Linked DNA regions of Homo sapiens: regions 2, 3 and 4 are each reported to be linked to region 1. Evidence: microRNA targets listed by miRTarBase, many of them from high-throughput screens and not tested one by one. Region 1 holds a microRNA gene; each other region holds the end of a gene's coding sequence.

Region 1 (4,150 bases):
CCTTGGCCCTATGAGACCTCGCTCCATTTCTCTGCATTTGGGGAGGAGACACCTCAACCCCTGGCTCTCTGACCTCCCACACATAAGCCCAACAGCTCTGAAACGGAAATGGGGGCACAGAGACCCAAAGCACAGAAGTCGTTCATTAGTGAATTTCGGCCCATCAGGGACTCTATCTCCAAGCCAAATGCTCCTGAGCACCCAGTCCCTGCCTGGGACACGCTTTGCCCCAACTGACTGTGTGCCTGGGGCAGCCTGAAGACTCAAAGGCTGCTAGGAGCTCCCAAACTAGGGGAATCCCTTGCCTGCTTCCCACCAGCTGGCCTGACTCTCTGGAAACTTCCCCATTTCCCTGGGAGCCATAGAGAGGTTTGAATACTTCTCTCCAAGAGAAGAAATTTTTTCTCTCACAAAGGGATGGGGGACAGACAGACCAACAATCCAGCTAGGGAGACAGGAAATTCTATTCCCATTTTCTCCTCCAGCTTCCTTGGGAGTCAAAACAAATATGTTCGCATAAGAGAGGGGAAAAATAAATGTGTATGCGTATAAATACATACAGGGTATTTAAGAGAGCCTAGGGGAGACAGAAACAGAGCCCTACACTCATACAAGGTCACATATATCCCTCCCAGCAGATGACTGTGAGAATATAGAACTCTGTATATATTTTGTTACAGGGACATAATTTTGTTTCCCTGTCTAGACGTTTATAATGTTTTAATAATCATAATAATTTCAAAGTAAGAGAACCAAGAACCTGACCTTCTTTTGGCTTCTCTTCCCCAGTATCTCTGAGAACAGGGGTGTATCTCCTCAGTCTCCATAACCCCTCCCCCATTTATTCCCCCCCCCCCAACTCCGCCCGCAGGCAGGCAAAGAAACCTCTTTTGAGAACTTTCTCTGTAGCAACCAGGGCCAGAATTGAAGAACCAAGGGGGAAAGGATGAGAGGAAGCTTTGCAAAGTTTCACACTGCTCAGATTTTCCTCTACCCCATTCTCCTCCCCTCCTCCCCCTGGCATCAGCCAACAACCTTTCCACCAACATAGCAATGGTGGGCACGGGCAGCCTCTGTTCACCCAGATGTTTCCACATAGTGCAAAGACAGGCAGCTGCCTGACAGTCACAGCCACAGAAACTGAGGCCTTCAGGCCACAGACGACTAAACAGAGACCAGAGTCAGGTTTTTGCCCTGATGTTTCCCAGTTGCGTGCGTGTGCGTGTGTGAGGGGTTCTACTTGGACTTTGATGGCTTTCCTCTAACCTACCAACACCCCAAACATGTCCTTCCCCTGGAGATGGAGCTATAGAAGGGGAAGGGGAAAGGGCTGGGCTGGCGCTCAGAGTTCCCCAACTCTTGGAACCTCCAGGTACCCCACTTTTCTAAGGAGAATCTTGAGCCCCAGTCGACTGGAGGTGGTAGGTGGGAGAGGCTAACCATTCCAGAGACCGTCTTCTCTTTCTGTGCTCCTCTTTCTGCTAATAATTCTGCCCCACCCTGCTGCCCAACTGAGCTGGCCCGCCAGGCCACCTCTTACTCAAACTCCTGAATTTCCTTGGAATTGGCTGGACCCTCTTTGTCTGTCTCCATCAGCTGGGCCCAGGAGACAATAGCTGCAGGAAAGACTCCTCTCCCTTAATCACAGGGATTGGGATAGGTTGAGAGGACGGCATAAAGCAGGGTTCTCCAGACTTGTTCTGCAACCCCACTCACAGCTTGTCCTCCTTGGTCTGCACCCACTTTGCCCTATCTGGGAGGGGGCAGTGGGGCAGTCCCACTGGGGAGGGTAGGAGTGGGAGAGGTGGGTTGGGGCCCTCGACGAAAACCGACTGATGTAACTCAGGCAGTTTCTTGTTGCCGAGTTCAAAACTCAATCCCAACAACATGAAACTACCTAAGCCACAGATCAGCTGAGCGAGCAGGGCGGGAGATTCAGCTTTGCATCTATCTGGAGGAGAAGGGAAGGGGGTTGGGGAAGGAAGAAATTCAGCCCCGTCCCCCTTTCCGCCCCCACAACCTCCCTAAGGACTAGAGAGTAGACTTTGGGTTGCTGGGTGGGTAAGGGGTCTGACTGCCTTCATTAGTTTCTGGTCTAAGCAAATTGCTCAGGAAAAATCTGGTGAAATGGGACCACTGGCGGCCAAATACCTGCCCCACCCCCAGCACCGCAGTGGAGCTATTCCCCTGCATCTGGCCCTGGCCCTGGGGGAAGCTGGATCTTCCTTCCACTCTGGAGCTGGGTCCCCTGTCTTGTCCATCTGGCTCTCCTGCACTCTCCTGCTAGACTCCCTCTGATCCTCTCCCTCTCAGCTCGGTTTAGGCTTCTCAGCGAATGTGGGTAGCTGAATCATAGCCCTGTGCTCTGGAGCCACTTCCAATCAGGCCACTTGCCTGGCAAAACGTTACAGCCAGGGAGCACAGGGAACAAGAGGCTGGACGAGGCTCACATCCAAACCAGCGAAAAGCAGGAAAACCTAAGCTTCAAGCTTCAACCCTCTGTACTCCTCCTCCCCCACCAACAGACGACCAGACTGAGCAACACCTAGACCAGAGTGTCGACTTCGAGGAGACCCAAAGTGCCCGAAAAGATAAAGAAGCCAAAAACCATCAATTTATCCCTTTAACTGTGGAACCCCCATGGCAATGGGCCCGGGAGGGAAGGAGAGGGAGCTCCCAGTCGCTGCCCTCCGCTGCCAGCGGCCACTAGGAAAGCCTGGGTTCTCGGCAAGCACGGATGCCCTAAACACCTTCCTCCAGGCTCTGTCCGCTGCACGCCGGACACCTGGGGACACCGCTCATCCCCACTCCGCCGCCAAGAGAAGAACAAGAAACCGCTTCTCTTACCTTGTCGCTGCCTCCTCCTCCTGCTGCTCCTGGCGTTTCTGTTAGCTGCTGTCGAGGTTGGGGGGGCTGAGCTCCTCATGCCCCTCCAGCGGTTAAGTTTATTCCTTTCCTTGGATGGGTGGGGGGCTCTTGGGGTGACCCCCAGCAGCAGTGGGGTGCGCCCAGCCCAGCACCCCAGGCAATCAGATCCGTCTGCTCCTCAAGATTGCAGCTTGCTCTCTGCCTCTTTCCCTCCTCCAGTCACCTTTAAATGCATCTTTTACTGCAGCACCACATTATATTTGCAGATCATAAAATCCACCTCTCGCGCGCACCAAGACCGTCCTGACATTACTGTTTTATGACCTTGACTTATTGTGGTCACCTGGATAATATTTAAATCAACGTTATGGTCTCTCACTTACATTAAACCCGCCAAGAGACGTTCTAGAAAGGCTCTAGGAGATGAGTCAAACACAAAACACACACATCCACACACTCAGCCTCTTCGGGGGAGGGGTGTTGCTAAAAATCACTAAAAACAAAAAACCATCCATTTGAGGATTATGATTCTGGAAATTTATTAGGTTTTTTTTTCTCCATTAAGGAAGCTACATGCAAAAGATACAACATACAGAATATCTTTAAATAACACAACTCCCAGACAGGGACAGGACAATATTTGGGGGGGGGGGCATTCTGTCTTTGCTTTGCTATGTTCTATTTTTAATTTTTTTGTTCCTCTGGATGAAATTTCTGAGATGTTACTAGATGGGGGATGTGGGGGTGCTAGGAGGGGTGGGAGAAAAGCAGAAAGCAGTACAAATACGAGACTTCAAGCAGATTCTTAGAGCGACTGGGAGGTAAAGACATGGAGAGGGTTTGGTGGAGGCTCTGGGTGCTACGACAAACACACGAACACTAGCCGAACTTTCCAAAACGTCTATTAGTCTAAGGAGGAAATGCAGCAAGGAAGGAACGATTCTGCCTGTGCTCTGCGAGATTACAGACCCTCTCTGGTTAATTTTTTTCCTTTTTTTCCCCTACAAGCGGATGGATTCGATCTTAACTTTGCATGGAGAACAGAATGCTGTGTGTGAGTGCGTGGGTGAGTGAGGGCTTGACACACACACCAGCCACACTCCCACCCCCATCTATGAGGGCACACACCACACCCCACATCCCGGCACCCCATTTCTCATGCTTTAAGTGGAAGCATCTTCGCAGCACGAACCACAGGTCCCTTGGAAGGAGAGTCTGAGGTCTTTGCCTTTTTTGCAGTCGCATTGCATTTATACTCAGGGAGGAAAAAAAAATATATCAC
Region 2 (4,000 bases), not on the chromosome of region 1:
AAGAACCAACTGTAGAAAATACAGAGTAGAGGTGAGTTTCAAGAAGCACTGGGCAAGCACTTGAATAACTGATTTTGATGGTAAGAGCTCCAATCATCCCAAGGCAGACCCTCTTCTGGGAGAAAACCAAAGATTCACCTTCAAAACGAGGTGTTTCAGGAGCCCCAAAGCATAACATTCTATTTCCTAAGAAACACACTCTATATTTCTGTTAAAACAATTTAAAAAATGGTACACATTTAGTAGAAAATGAATTGTGAAACACTGCACTAGCAACATCATTTCTCAAGGACACATGAGAAGTACTTTCATGTTCACGACATTTCTTTTGGGTACTCAAGTCATTTAACTTTTTTTTTTGAGACGGAGTCTCGCTCTGTCGCCAGGCTTGAGTGCAATGGCGTGATCTCAGCTCACTGCAGCCTCCGCCTCCTGGGTTCAAGTGATTCTCCTGTCTCAGCCTCCCGAGTAGCTGGGATTACAGGGGTACACCACCACGCCCAGCTAATTTTTGTATTTTTAGTAGAGATGGGGTTTCACTATGTTGGTCAGGCTGCCCTCGAACTCCTGACCTCGTGATCCGCCCACCTTGGCCTCCCAAAGTGCTGGGATTACAGGCATGAGCCTCCACGCCCGGCGTCATTGAACTTTTTTATTCAAAGGGGTAGAATGTATATGTGGGACAAAGAAAGAGGCTAGATTAACAAAGCTATCATTTCCTTGTTTCTCTTTGACAGCTGGTCAAATAATTCAGGCATAGCTAGGACTGATGCTCAAGTTAGAAACAGGTGGCCCATGCTGTCCAATATAGCAGCCACTAGCCACATGTGCTTATCAAGCATTTGCACTGTGTCCCATGCAACAAGGAACTGGATTTTAATTTTAATAAATTTAATATAAATTTTTAAACTGATACTTATTTCAATTCTTGAAAAAAACTTTTGTCTTAGCTACTTGATATGAGAATCTGTTTTCAACTGTAAGTTGTATGAAATCTAAATACAGATCAAGTATGTCCAATGAACATTAGCATCCAAATGGAGATGTGCAGAAAGTGTAAAATACACACCAGATTTCGAAAGCTTAGTATGAAAAAGAGAATGTAAAATGTCTCACTAATATATTTTTATATGTTGAAATATTTGGCAAATGTTGGATTAAATAAACTTTTATTAACATTTTCACCTGCTTCTTTTTATGTTTTTAAAAGTTGCTACTAGAACATTTAAAGTGACCTATGTTGTTCATGTTATAGTTCTCTTAGTGTAGAGGTAGACTGTTATAGAGCCAGTGAAACTTGACTTATAAATAGCTATGTAACCGTATTTTCTGAATAATCACCTAGCTATCCAGAGTGAGTAAACACTCACTTACTTAAATATTTAATTTCCTGGAGAAAATGTGGATTGGTGGGCTTTGAAAAGTTGGTAAAAACTTTGTGTTTTAAGAATAAAATTAAACAGTTTAAACGAGAACCTGAAATAATACTTAGGGCTTAACAGTGTTTGTAAAAAATTGTTATCTTTGCTCTAGTCAGGCCTGATTTAACATTAGTTTGGTTGATACATATAAGATATATATCATTTTGGAAGTTTTGTGAATTACATATAATAAAATATAGCTTAGCAAATATGCAACCAAAATGTTTTTATCTTCTCTCAAACCTGAAGAATTCTCTATTACTCTAACCTCCAAATAACTTATTTGATTTAGGGAGAAATCAAGGATGTCTAAAACAAAACAATTGATGGAAAGGCTCTATTAATTTTAGAGTAGATTACCCCCTACTCCCCATCAGCATTGTTAATTTAGATATACTAGTGCCCACCTTCTTTTCTCAAAAATCCCCTACCAGCTTACATGAAAGTGGTAAAAGAATTCAATAAGCTTAGCTTGAAAACCTAACCCAAACATAATTTAATCTTTTGATGATGATTTAAAAATCATACAATTACAGACACATGCTGGCTACAAAGTCTCTGAGGCTCAAAGTTTTAAGATTAGATGAAGATTAGCTGGGTGTGGTGGTACATCCCTGTAGTCCCAGCTACTAGGGAGGCTAAGGTGGGAGGGTTGCTTGAGCCCAGGAATTCGAGGTTACAGTGAGCAATGATTGTGCCACTACACTCTGGCCTGGGTGATACAGTGAGACCCTGTCTCTAAAAAAGGAAAGATTAGGAGAAGATATTCACTTTGTGGGATTTAACTAGTCTGCAATAAAAATGAATTATAAGCTTCCATCTCCAGAAAGTTATCAGACACAACACGTAGATCAACATTTTCAGGAGATCAGTTAGAATTCAGTAGAGTATATATAAGACTTAAATTACACTGAATAAAGTTTTATGTTCCAGAATAGTGAAGAAAGCTTTACCTTCATGAAAATCAAATCTCTTTTCTGACAAAAATTCAGAATTTAGGGTGAATGTCTTGATCCAATTTTGTATTTTAAACTTAATTAAAATTTTGATAGCCTTCTGTTGAAAAATATGTAAATTTATGTTTCTCAGAAAAGACGAATTCAGAATTTTAAGAAATCCTATGCTTTTGGCTATCTTGTTACATGAATTTTGAGTTAAAATACTGAGTTTATGAGTTTGAATCTTTCTGAAGTGTTAACACAATAAGCCCACTGTACTGCATAAAGATAAAACGTTGAGGGTTACTTTGTCTTAGGGGACTGGAAATTATTAAAAGGGCAAATTCCCCATACATTGTGATCTGTCATATTTAGCCCTGACTTGTCTTGTGGTAACAACTGTGTTGCCTAAGAAAAATAAGAAAATAGAACAAACCATTCTGCCCAGTTCAACCAAAATGACTCCCTTTGTCCTAGAAAACAAAAAAACATAACTGGGGAGGTTGGCAAGACCATAACCTATGGCTGTGAACATTTAAACCTTACAGAAAAACTGAGATCAATGCCCCCAAAGAAAAACTACCCGAGTCTTTATGAGACATTGCAGATTAAAATGAAAACCATTCAATAATATTGAAATGCTCAATACAAATCAGTACCTTAGACAAGACATACACACATCTTGCTACCTGGATGGAGGGCATTATAAACATCAGTTAGCCATCACAGCTCTCACAGAAGCATCTGCAAGTCAATGGTGTGGAGAGCCTGATTTCAAGCGTTCAAAATCCAGTCAGAGCTGGCTTATAAGAAGAGCCCAATCAAGCAGTCAAACGTGTTTACAGGTCAGCTCTGCTCCTGGCCAAGTGGCGTTGGCTGGGGCACGTGGTGAGTGGGTGGTGGCGGACCAGGCTCCTGTGTCAGCTGCAGGTGCTGAGCTGGATCTGAAGTACTTGTAGCTAAATGGAGCTCCTCTGTTTGCTCTTGATGGGCATGAAGATGTTCCAGTGTTTCCTTGGACAGAGTGATCACGTGCACTGGCTCTGTTTGTGAGGGCCCCATCTGGCTTTCAATCATATTGAGGCTCTGAATGTGTTCTGTTTGCTCCTGTTGAGCTGAAAGAATTAAATTCTGCAGTTGCTCTGGCTGCTGCGTGAGCAGGGTAAGATTAGCAGCCTGGTCTGCAGTCATGTTTTGGGAACTCTCTGCAGTCACAATGCTGATTCCCTGGCTAGGACCGGGCATGAAATTGATGTTATGTACAGAATCGGTTACGAGAAGCTGAATTTCCTGCTCTCCCGAGGTAGAGAGTTGATATGGCTGTAGCTGAAGAATATTCCTGACCTCTTCTGTATTACTACTGCCAGAAATGCTGCTGGCATCTGAAGCATGCTTCTCCTTGCTATGAATTTTCAAGTGAGCCTTCAAGTTGTCTAAGCGAGCAAACTGTAAGTTACACTCAGGGCAGGAGAAAGGCTTCTTGCCAGTGTGTAGAATGCAGTGTCTCCTTTTGGCACTGGAGTCAGAGAAGGATTTGCCACAAATGCCACAGGAGTATGGCTTTTCTCCTCTGTAAGAAAATAAACATTTTATTTTTAAAATGGAAATACCTACTTACTACTTCCTGATTATTTAGGGGGA
Region 3 (4,000 bases), not on the chromosome of region 1:
GAGACCAGCCTGGCCAACATGGTGAAACCCTGTCTCTACTAAAAATACAAAAATTAGCTGGGTGTCATGGCGGGCACCTGTAATCCCAGCTACTCAGGAGGCTAAGACAGGAGAATCACTTGAACCCAGAAGGCAGAGGTTGCAGTGAGCCGAGATCGTGCCATTACACTCCAGCCTTGGGTAACAAGAGCAAAACTCTGTCTCAAAAAAAAAAAAAAAAAAAAAAGAGAAACAAACAAACAAAAACATTTGAAGCAGTCTGATATTTTCAACTACACAGGGAGAATAACAGTACTTACTTTATATGGTGATAGTAAAGATAGAATGAGCTAAAAACAAAATAAAACAAAACCAGCTTAGAGTGGTGCCAGGCATGGTTGTTAGTGGCTAGTATTATCATTCTTGTTGTTTTTTTTATCAGTGCTTGATATAAATGAGAAAGCACTAAGTGAATGGGTACTTCAGCATAAAAGAGTTGTTGAAGACATGTGGAGATTTAGTTTTGAATAAATTAATAATAATAAGTTTCCTTAACTACAACTCAGATTCCATGCTGGTTTCCATTGTGGGGATGGCACTATACACAGGATACGTCTTCATGCCCCAGCACATCATGGCGATATTGCACTACTTTGAAATCGTACAATGACCAAGATGCGACCAGGATCAGAGGTTCCTTGGGGAAGACCCACCCTACGAAGTTGGAATGAGACCATCAGATGTGATAAGAAACTCTTCTAGATGTCAACATAACCAACCTTATAAAGACTAAAATTCATGAGTAGAACAGGAAAATCATCCTGACTCATGTGTTGTGTTCTTTATTTTTAATTTTCAAAGAGGCTCTTGTATAGCAGTTTTTGTCTATTTTAACATTGTAGTCATTTGTACTTTGATATCAGTATTTTCTTAACCTTTGTGACTGTTTCAATATTACCCCCGTGAAAGCTTTTCTTAATGTAACTTTGAGTACATTTTAATTGCCTTCTATTTTTAAAACTCAAAATCATTAGTTGGGCTTTACTGTTCTTGCTATTGTATGGCATATACATCTGCCTGGATATATTTCTACTCTTGACCAAAGTTTTGTAAAGAACAATATAAGATTTCGGGTAGGGGTATGGGGAGGGAAGATATTTTATTGAGAACTACTTAACAAAAGATTTATCTGTAAGCTTGAACTCAGGAGTACAGTTTTAGCTATCTAGACTCTAACAGCTTTTGCTTTAAAATTATTAAAGTGTTTCTTAATGAAAAAGAAAAGATCTTGCTAAAGTTAAAATAAGGAACATTTCACCTTTTAAATATTTAATTCTTATGTGGACTTATTTCCAGAAAACTTTGGTGATAATTCTTGAGACAAAAGGTGGTTAAGTAGCATTATTATGTAATGCTTATATACCATAGAGTTTTTAATAGAAGAGAAATCCATTTCCTCCGAGGGTCACTATTAACAATGTACTTCCTTAAATTTAGTTTAATGATTGTAATGGGTGCTGCATTTGCACATTGCATTAAGTTATGATGAGACGAATTGTTGTTAAAAATTATAGCAAAAAGAAATGTAAACTTGGTTAAAATCCTTTCACTCTTTGTATTGTTTTTTTTAAGGTTTTTATTCCTTAAATGTAAAATGACTACCTAATTTTTTGATGTAAATACATTAAATTCAAAGAGAAAAAAAATCAGCTGATGTAGCAGTATATCTTTTCCTTGATGGTTAAATATTGATCTAGTATTTATATTGCTGAATTATTTTCTGTGGAGGACCAGATAAGCAGTAAGTATGTCTTATCCTATATGTTTTGCAACATAAAAATATTGCTAATTGAAAAGAATTAGGCAATTATGTGTGTTGCTGGGTTGTTTTTTTGTTTTTTTTTTTTTGAGACGGAGTCTTGCCCTGTCGCCCAGGATGGAGTGCAACAGCATGATCTCGGTTCACTGCAACCTCCATCTCCTGGGATCAAGTGATTCTCCTGCCTCAGCCTCCTGAATAGCTGGGATTACAGGCACCTGCCACCATGCCTGGCTAATTTTTTGTATCTGTAGTAGAGACGGGGTTTCACTGTGTTGGCCAGGATGGTCTCAAACTCCTGACCTCCTGATCCACCTGCCTCGGCCTCCCAAAGTGCTGGGTTTACAGGCGTGAGCCACCGCGCCCGGCCAAAATTGAGGTATTTTTTGCCCTACGTTTTAAGGACTAGACTTTTGAAGTATTTTATAGTCTAGAGGTCTCAAGTAATATATATGTGTTTAATATTTTTAGAGCCAATTGATACCACAATTAGATAGGAGTAGTGAGAATAATATGGAATTACTTGGTTTGAAGTAGTTAAAAATTGGATATGGTTATATCTGAGCTGTAGTCATATTATCTCAAGAAAAATAATACGAGGATTTAACATAAGATTTGTTCTATTAATGCCCAAATTTGGCTTTCCTCTACTATCCCCCATAGAGAACCACTAACAAGTGGATGTCTAATATTCCTCTGGTGAGTTGAAGGCAGGAGAAGTTGAGAATCATTAGTTTCAATGAGTATCCAGGTGACCTATCCTGGCCCTCTACTCAGAAACCGGCAATTTGTCTTCACTCTGAGATTCATTAAATTGCTGTTGTATAACTGATGGTTATTATGAACACTGACCTGTGAGACATATGGAAGATAAAGTTTGGTCTTACAGGAAATCTTGAGGAGAGTCAAAAGAGAAATGGGAGATGTCTCTTGAGAGGTGATCAGAGAAGTTTATGCTCACTGTCTGATGCAAATGTCTGGTCTATTTGTTAGTAAATAACAGGGAAATCATTTTCACTTTTTGTTAAAAATAAGGTATTTACAAGCATACCTTGTAGTTATTGTGGGTTCAGTTTCAGACCACTGCAATAAAGTGAATATCTCAATAAAGTGAGTCACATGAAGTTTTTTGGTTTTCCCCTGCATATAAAAGTTACATTTACACCATCCTGTAGTCTATTAAGTGTGCAGTAGCATTATGGCTAAAAAAAAAAAACACCCAATATACCTATCTTAATTAAAGAATTATTTATTGCTGAAAAAAGCTAATGATTATTTGAGCCTTCAACAAGTCATAATTTTTTGTTGGTGGAGGGTCTTGCCTTGATGTTGATGGCTGCTGACTGATCTGGGTCATGGTTGCGGAAGGTTGGGGTGGCTATGGCAATTTTTAAAAATAAGACAACAATAAAGTTTGCTGCATTGATCAACTCTTCATTCATGAAAGATTTCTCTGTAGCATGTAAGCTATTTGATAGCCTTTTACCCACAATGGAACTTCCTCCAAAATTGGAAGCAATCCTTTCAAACCCTGCTGCTGCTTTATCAACTAAGTTTATAAAATATCCTAAGTCCTTCATTGTAATTTCAACAATGTTCATAGCACCTTCACCAGGTGTATATGCCATCTCAAGAAACCACTTTCTTTGCTCATCCATAAAAGGCAAAACCTTGTCTGTTCAAGTTTTACCGTGAGATTGCAGTAATTCACTCACATCATCAGGCTCCATATGTAGTTCTCTTGCTATTTTTAGCATATCTACAGTTAACTTCCTCCACTGAAATTTTGAACCCCTCCAAGTCATCCATAAAAGTTGGAATCAACTTTGCAACTCCTGTTACTGTTAATATTTTGACCTCCTCCCATGAATCATAAATCTTTTATTATAATGGCATCTAGAATGGTGAATCATTTCTGGAAGCTTTTCAATTGACTGCCTAGGTCCATCAGAGTAATTACTACCTATGGCAGCTATAGCCTTACAAAATGTATTTCTTAAATAATAAAGACCTCAAAGTCAAGGTAAATCCTTGATCCATGGGCCACAGAATGGATGCTGTGTTGGCAGGCATGGAAATGATATTAATCTCCTTGTACATCTCTATCAGAGCTCTTGGGTGACTAGATGCATTGTTAATGAGCAGTAATATTTTGAAGAGAATCTTCAAAATAGTAGTAGGTCTCAATGGTGGGCTTAAAAT
Region 4 (4,000 bases), not on the chromosome of region 1:
TAGCCAGCACCTGTATTGTCACTGACTGTAGAAATATTTTAATGAGGCACTCATATATATTTGATAGGATTCAAAAAATGGAAATAAAAAAAGAACACAGAAAACTGATAAACTACTCAGTGACATTACTGATACTCCCCAAAGATGAGCGCTTCCCCTTGTACCTAACACCTGGTTATTTCAGGACTTGAGCACAATAGAGACAGATGGTATCACAATCCTAATCAAGTGTAACTCCAACAGCTCAACTTCCAGGAATTTACCCTAAATAACAATTGAACAAGTGGAAGATGTATGGTCAAAGATAATAACTTCATATTAGTGAAGAACTGGGAAGCACACAGGTACCCAATGGGAGCTGATAAACTAAGCCCAGGAGAGCCACAGTCTTGTGACGTGGCAGGCACAGGCCCAGCTCTCCCATTCGTTAGCTGGGTGACCTGAGCAGGCGCCTCAGGTCCCTCATCTGTAAACCTCACCGATTTACTGTGGGAATTGAGGCAATGCATGGAAAGTGCTTAACCTGTGTCCAGCATGTAAATAACAACACATCTGCTGTTAGCACATTAATGGAACGCTAAATATTAAAATTATGTGAGAGGAAGTTTGAGTTGCCCAGATTTCATGGCATCCTGTTAAAAGAATAAAGGTTACCAACTCATGTGCATAGTAATAATTCCACATCTAGTTGTTCAGTGTGTGTGCACATCTGTGCAAGAGGAGAACATCTAGATGGATGAAAATCACAATAGTAACAATTTGGGCAGAAATGTGGAGATTTTTGTAGCTCTATTTTTCAGTTTTCTGTAATGAACCCTTCTGATTGTACACCCAAAAAGATAAAGAATGTTCTAGTTCTGTGTAAAGGTGGGGCTTAATTTTCGCTTTTTCATTCTGACCCACAGAGGCAGCACAGATTATCTAGAACAGTGACACAGGCTCAGGCCCTGTTTGAGTCCATACCTGCCTCGTGGTGGTTCAGCGGTGTCCTTGGGCATAACAAAAATCAGTAGGCCCTGGGGCTGTTTGCCCGATCTGTGTCTGCAGGAAGAAAGGGGTGGGGAAGAAGAGGTCAGAAGCAAAGCAGGGATTGGAACGAACTGGGTGGCAATGGGCAGGGGTGATGTGAAGCAGCTGATCGAAATGGCTGATACCGTCCCAGGATGACTCTCGCAATCATTCTTTTAACCAAAATGAGGTCTTTGAGAAGAAGGGATGAAGGGCCAGCCAGGTGTGTGCACCTGAACCCAAGCTCCTCCGGGTGGAGAGCTCTGGAAGGCAGTGTCAGTGACAGTCACAGCATGCCTCGCCGAGTGTCAAACGCGGCCTGGAACCCTCCAGTCCTCTCACACTGACATCAATTCCGAGCTAAGTAGATTCCTCAGCATTTCAGGAGATTTGAAAGTGATGGGCACTTGTGACTAACAGTAATGGCAGGTGGGGTGGAATTAAGGGGCATGTGGCCTGTCACAGTGTCGAGGGGCTCCAACACCTCTTCATTGCCTGGGGACCCACTGTGGTGGTGTCATCAGACACACTGATGAAAGTTAGGAGTTCCAAGGCAGTGCATCCATATACCCAAACTTTTACTCAAAAAAAGACTGGTGAATATTCCAGAATAATGTGTGACAGCTACACCGCCCCTGCTGGGCCTAGGTCAGCAGACTTGTCATGCTGTGGGCTACCAGATACGCATCTCTAGCTGACAGTCACCCTCTCTTCCCAAGGCTCAGACATCAAGATTAAAACAGCTTGAGGCCACCCGATTAACTCAGTCCCAGGATATGTAGAACAGCCCCTACTGCCGGCACATCCTCCATGTTTCAGAGCCCAGGAAGAGGGGACTGTGGACACTTTGGACCCACCCAGAACCAGCACAGAGGGAGGCGAAGCTGCAGGGCTTCGGGCACGTTAAGCCCTGGTGCCCCAGCTTCAACATCAGTAATATAAAGAAAGCCGGACCTCACAGGGCTGGTGAGGGCCAGGTGAGTTGATGCAGGTGAAGTGTGTGGGAAGAGCCCAGCGAGCCGCGTGCCCACATGGCCCTCGTGCAGCAGCCAATAGTCAGCATCCTGATGCCAGAAAAACAAGGCGGAACAGCGATTCAGGCACCCGAACCTGCCAGCAGGGGCCTCCTCTACTCTAGCAGAAATTCTTCCCCTTGGTAGCAGTAGGAGTCCTTTTCTGGTGCTGTTTTGGAGAGAACAGAACTGCTAGCGAGGGACCAGCTTCCTAAGGGGCCTGGCCCCTGACTCTTGGTAAATACGACCCTCCTGGGGAGTATTCTGGACTGAGTTGCATCCCTCCAAAACTCCAGTGTCAAAGCCCTAACCTCAGGACCTGAGAATGCAACTGTATTTGGAGACAGGTTCTTCAAAGAAGTAAGTTAAAAATGGGTCCTTCGGGTGGGTCCTAATACCATCTAACTGCTGTTCTTAGATTCTAAAGAGGTTAGGACACACAGAAGAGACACCAGGGCTGTGACACACACAGAGGAACGACCACGTGAGGTCAAAGTAAGCAGGTCTGCAAGCCAGGGAGGCCTCGGGAGAAACCCACTCTGCAGGCACCGTGAGCTTGTACTTCCAGCCTCCAGAACTGTGGGAAAATACATGTTTGTTGTTCAAACCACCCAGAATGTGGTGTTTTATTCCGGCAGCCCTGGCTAGGATCGAGGCTGGTTCAGGATCGCTCGTAGGAGGCAAATTAACACAGATTCCCAGGGCCCATCCTAAAGCCTGAGGCTCAACACGTCTGAACTGGGGCCCTACCTTAATAACAAGCCTGCCCAGGCCATTCGGACACAGGGGTCTATAGGTCAACCTCCGCACAGGCCGCACTAGGGCCTCAACTCCAAGGGTGGCCCACAGATCACAGAAACAGCACCACCTGCAGTTCATGAAAAATGCAGTTTGCAAGGCCCAACGGACGTGTGAATCCGAACCTGCAGGTTCACAGAATCCCCTCAGGATCTGTAAGCACACTGAAGCTGAAACAGCCCTGCCGGGCGTCTTTCCAGAGTGTCAATAAATTGGTGTACTATAGCCGCTAGGAAAGGTTTGTAGAAAAAATTGGAGTTCTGCATTTTGCTTTAGCTTTTCCTGCCTAAATGCCTGGAAAACAAATTTTCTTATGAATATTACCAACCCTCTGGGAAAGTAATAATTAACTGTTTACAAGACACATTGTATTATATTACAAAAATAATTACATGGAATAAGCCACATACTTAGTTTATTATAGGCATGTCTAATTGAAATCCATGAAAACAGTTACATTTAAAACATTCTTTATGCACTATACTTGAAAATGTAAAATATAATACCACTTAAGTACTTCCCACATTAAACTGATTTTTCTTTTTTTAAAAAAATTTTTCCTAGTCGTTATTTAGCTTTCGGACACCATAATACAATAGAACAGAAAGAGTATGTTAAAAGAAAAATATTAGGTAGAATGTTGTAAAACTTTTAATTTACCCATCATATTTAACATTTCCAAGACTATTTTCCTGCGCCTCATCTGCCCTCAGAGAGAATGATCCCCACAGTGATGAGGGGTCAGCACTCTGAAAGCCAGTTGACGCCAGACAAGCTGCTGGAACAGCTGGGGCACAGCTCCGCCTCTCCTCCAGCCCCTCGGTCCCATGAGGCCAAACAATGAGGACAGAGGGGCTGAGGGGTGTGTCCAGGGCCCAGTCCCACCTCAGCAGGAAGGTGGCGTCAGCACTCGCAGTCCCAGCCTCACGCCGCATCGCAGTCCCAGGGGATCTTCACACAGGGAGGGTGAGCTGGTTAAGAAGGCGGGTGATCCTCCCCCCGGATGCTTCGATACTTAGCCATGTCTTCCGGAAATACTTTAGAAAGTTCTTGAATCAACAGGCTTTTAAATTTCTACAAAGAAAATACATTATCAAAGGAGCTCTTCACATCAACACTCCAATAACTATTTAAAATATGCCTTTTGGAAGTTTAAACACATGGCCCACTAAGCAATACAG

What was found. Region 1 holds the annotated microRNA hsa-miR-196a-5p (UAGGUAGUUUCAUGUUGUUGGG, at 1,879-1,900, opposite strand). A microRNA usually pairs through its seed, bases 2 to 8, with sites in the 3' UTR of a target mRNA and lowers its output. Matches are read on the target gene's strand: a 7mer-m8 pairs with bases 2 to 8, a 7mer-A1 pairs with bases 2 to 7 and ends in A, and an 8mer does both.
Region 2: miRTarBase lists ZBTB24 as a target of hsa-miR-196a-5p. The part of its 3' UTR that is shown has no 7-base or 8-base seed match.
Region 3: miRTarBase lists SPTSSA as a target of hsa-miR-196a-5p. Seed matches in the 3' UTR shown: 8mer at 1,637-1,644.
Region 4: miRTarBase lists MED10 as a target of hsa-miR-196a-5p. Seed matches in the 3' UTR shown: 7mer-A1 at 3,449-3,455.

Annotation. Positions count from the first base shown.
Region 1 is chr12:53,989,512-53,993,661 of GRCh38, reverse strand. It overlaps MIR196A2 (microRNA 196a-2), which reads right to left and starts at 1,924; the gene lies at 1,815-1,924. It overlaps HOXC10 (homeobox C10), which reads right to left. Exons shown (of 2, transcript NM_017409.4): 2 at 3,383-4,150.
Region 2 is chr6:109,462,646-109,466,645 of GRCh38, forward strand. ZBTB24 (zinc finger and BTB domain containing 24) reads right to left here. Exons shown (of 7, transcript NM_014797.3): 7 at 1-3,929. The coding sequence ends at 3,206. It also overlaps a transcript of MICAL1 not described here. Among named protein-coding and RNA genes, the nearest start is that of MICAL1, 8.9 kb to the left of the region's middle.
Region 3 is chr14:34,431,850-34,435,849 of GRCh38, reverse strand. It overlaps SPTSSA (serine palmitoyltransferase small subunit A), which reads left to right. Exons shown (of 2, transcript NM_138288.4): 2 at 546-3,062. The coding sequence ends at 649. Among named protein-coding and RNA genes, the nearest start is that of SPTSSA, 28 kb to the left of the region's middle.
Region 4 is chr5:6,368,709-6,372,708 of GRCh38, forward strand. It overlaps MED10 (mediator complex subunit 10), which reads right to left. Exons shown (of 4, transcript NM_032286.3): 4 at 3,166-3,893. The coding sequence ends at 3,795. Among named protein-coding and RNA genes, the nearest start is that of MED10, 7.8 kb to the right of the region's middle.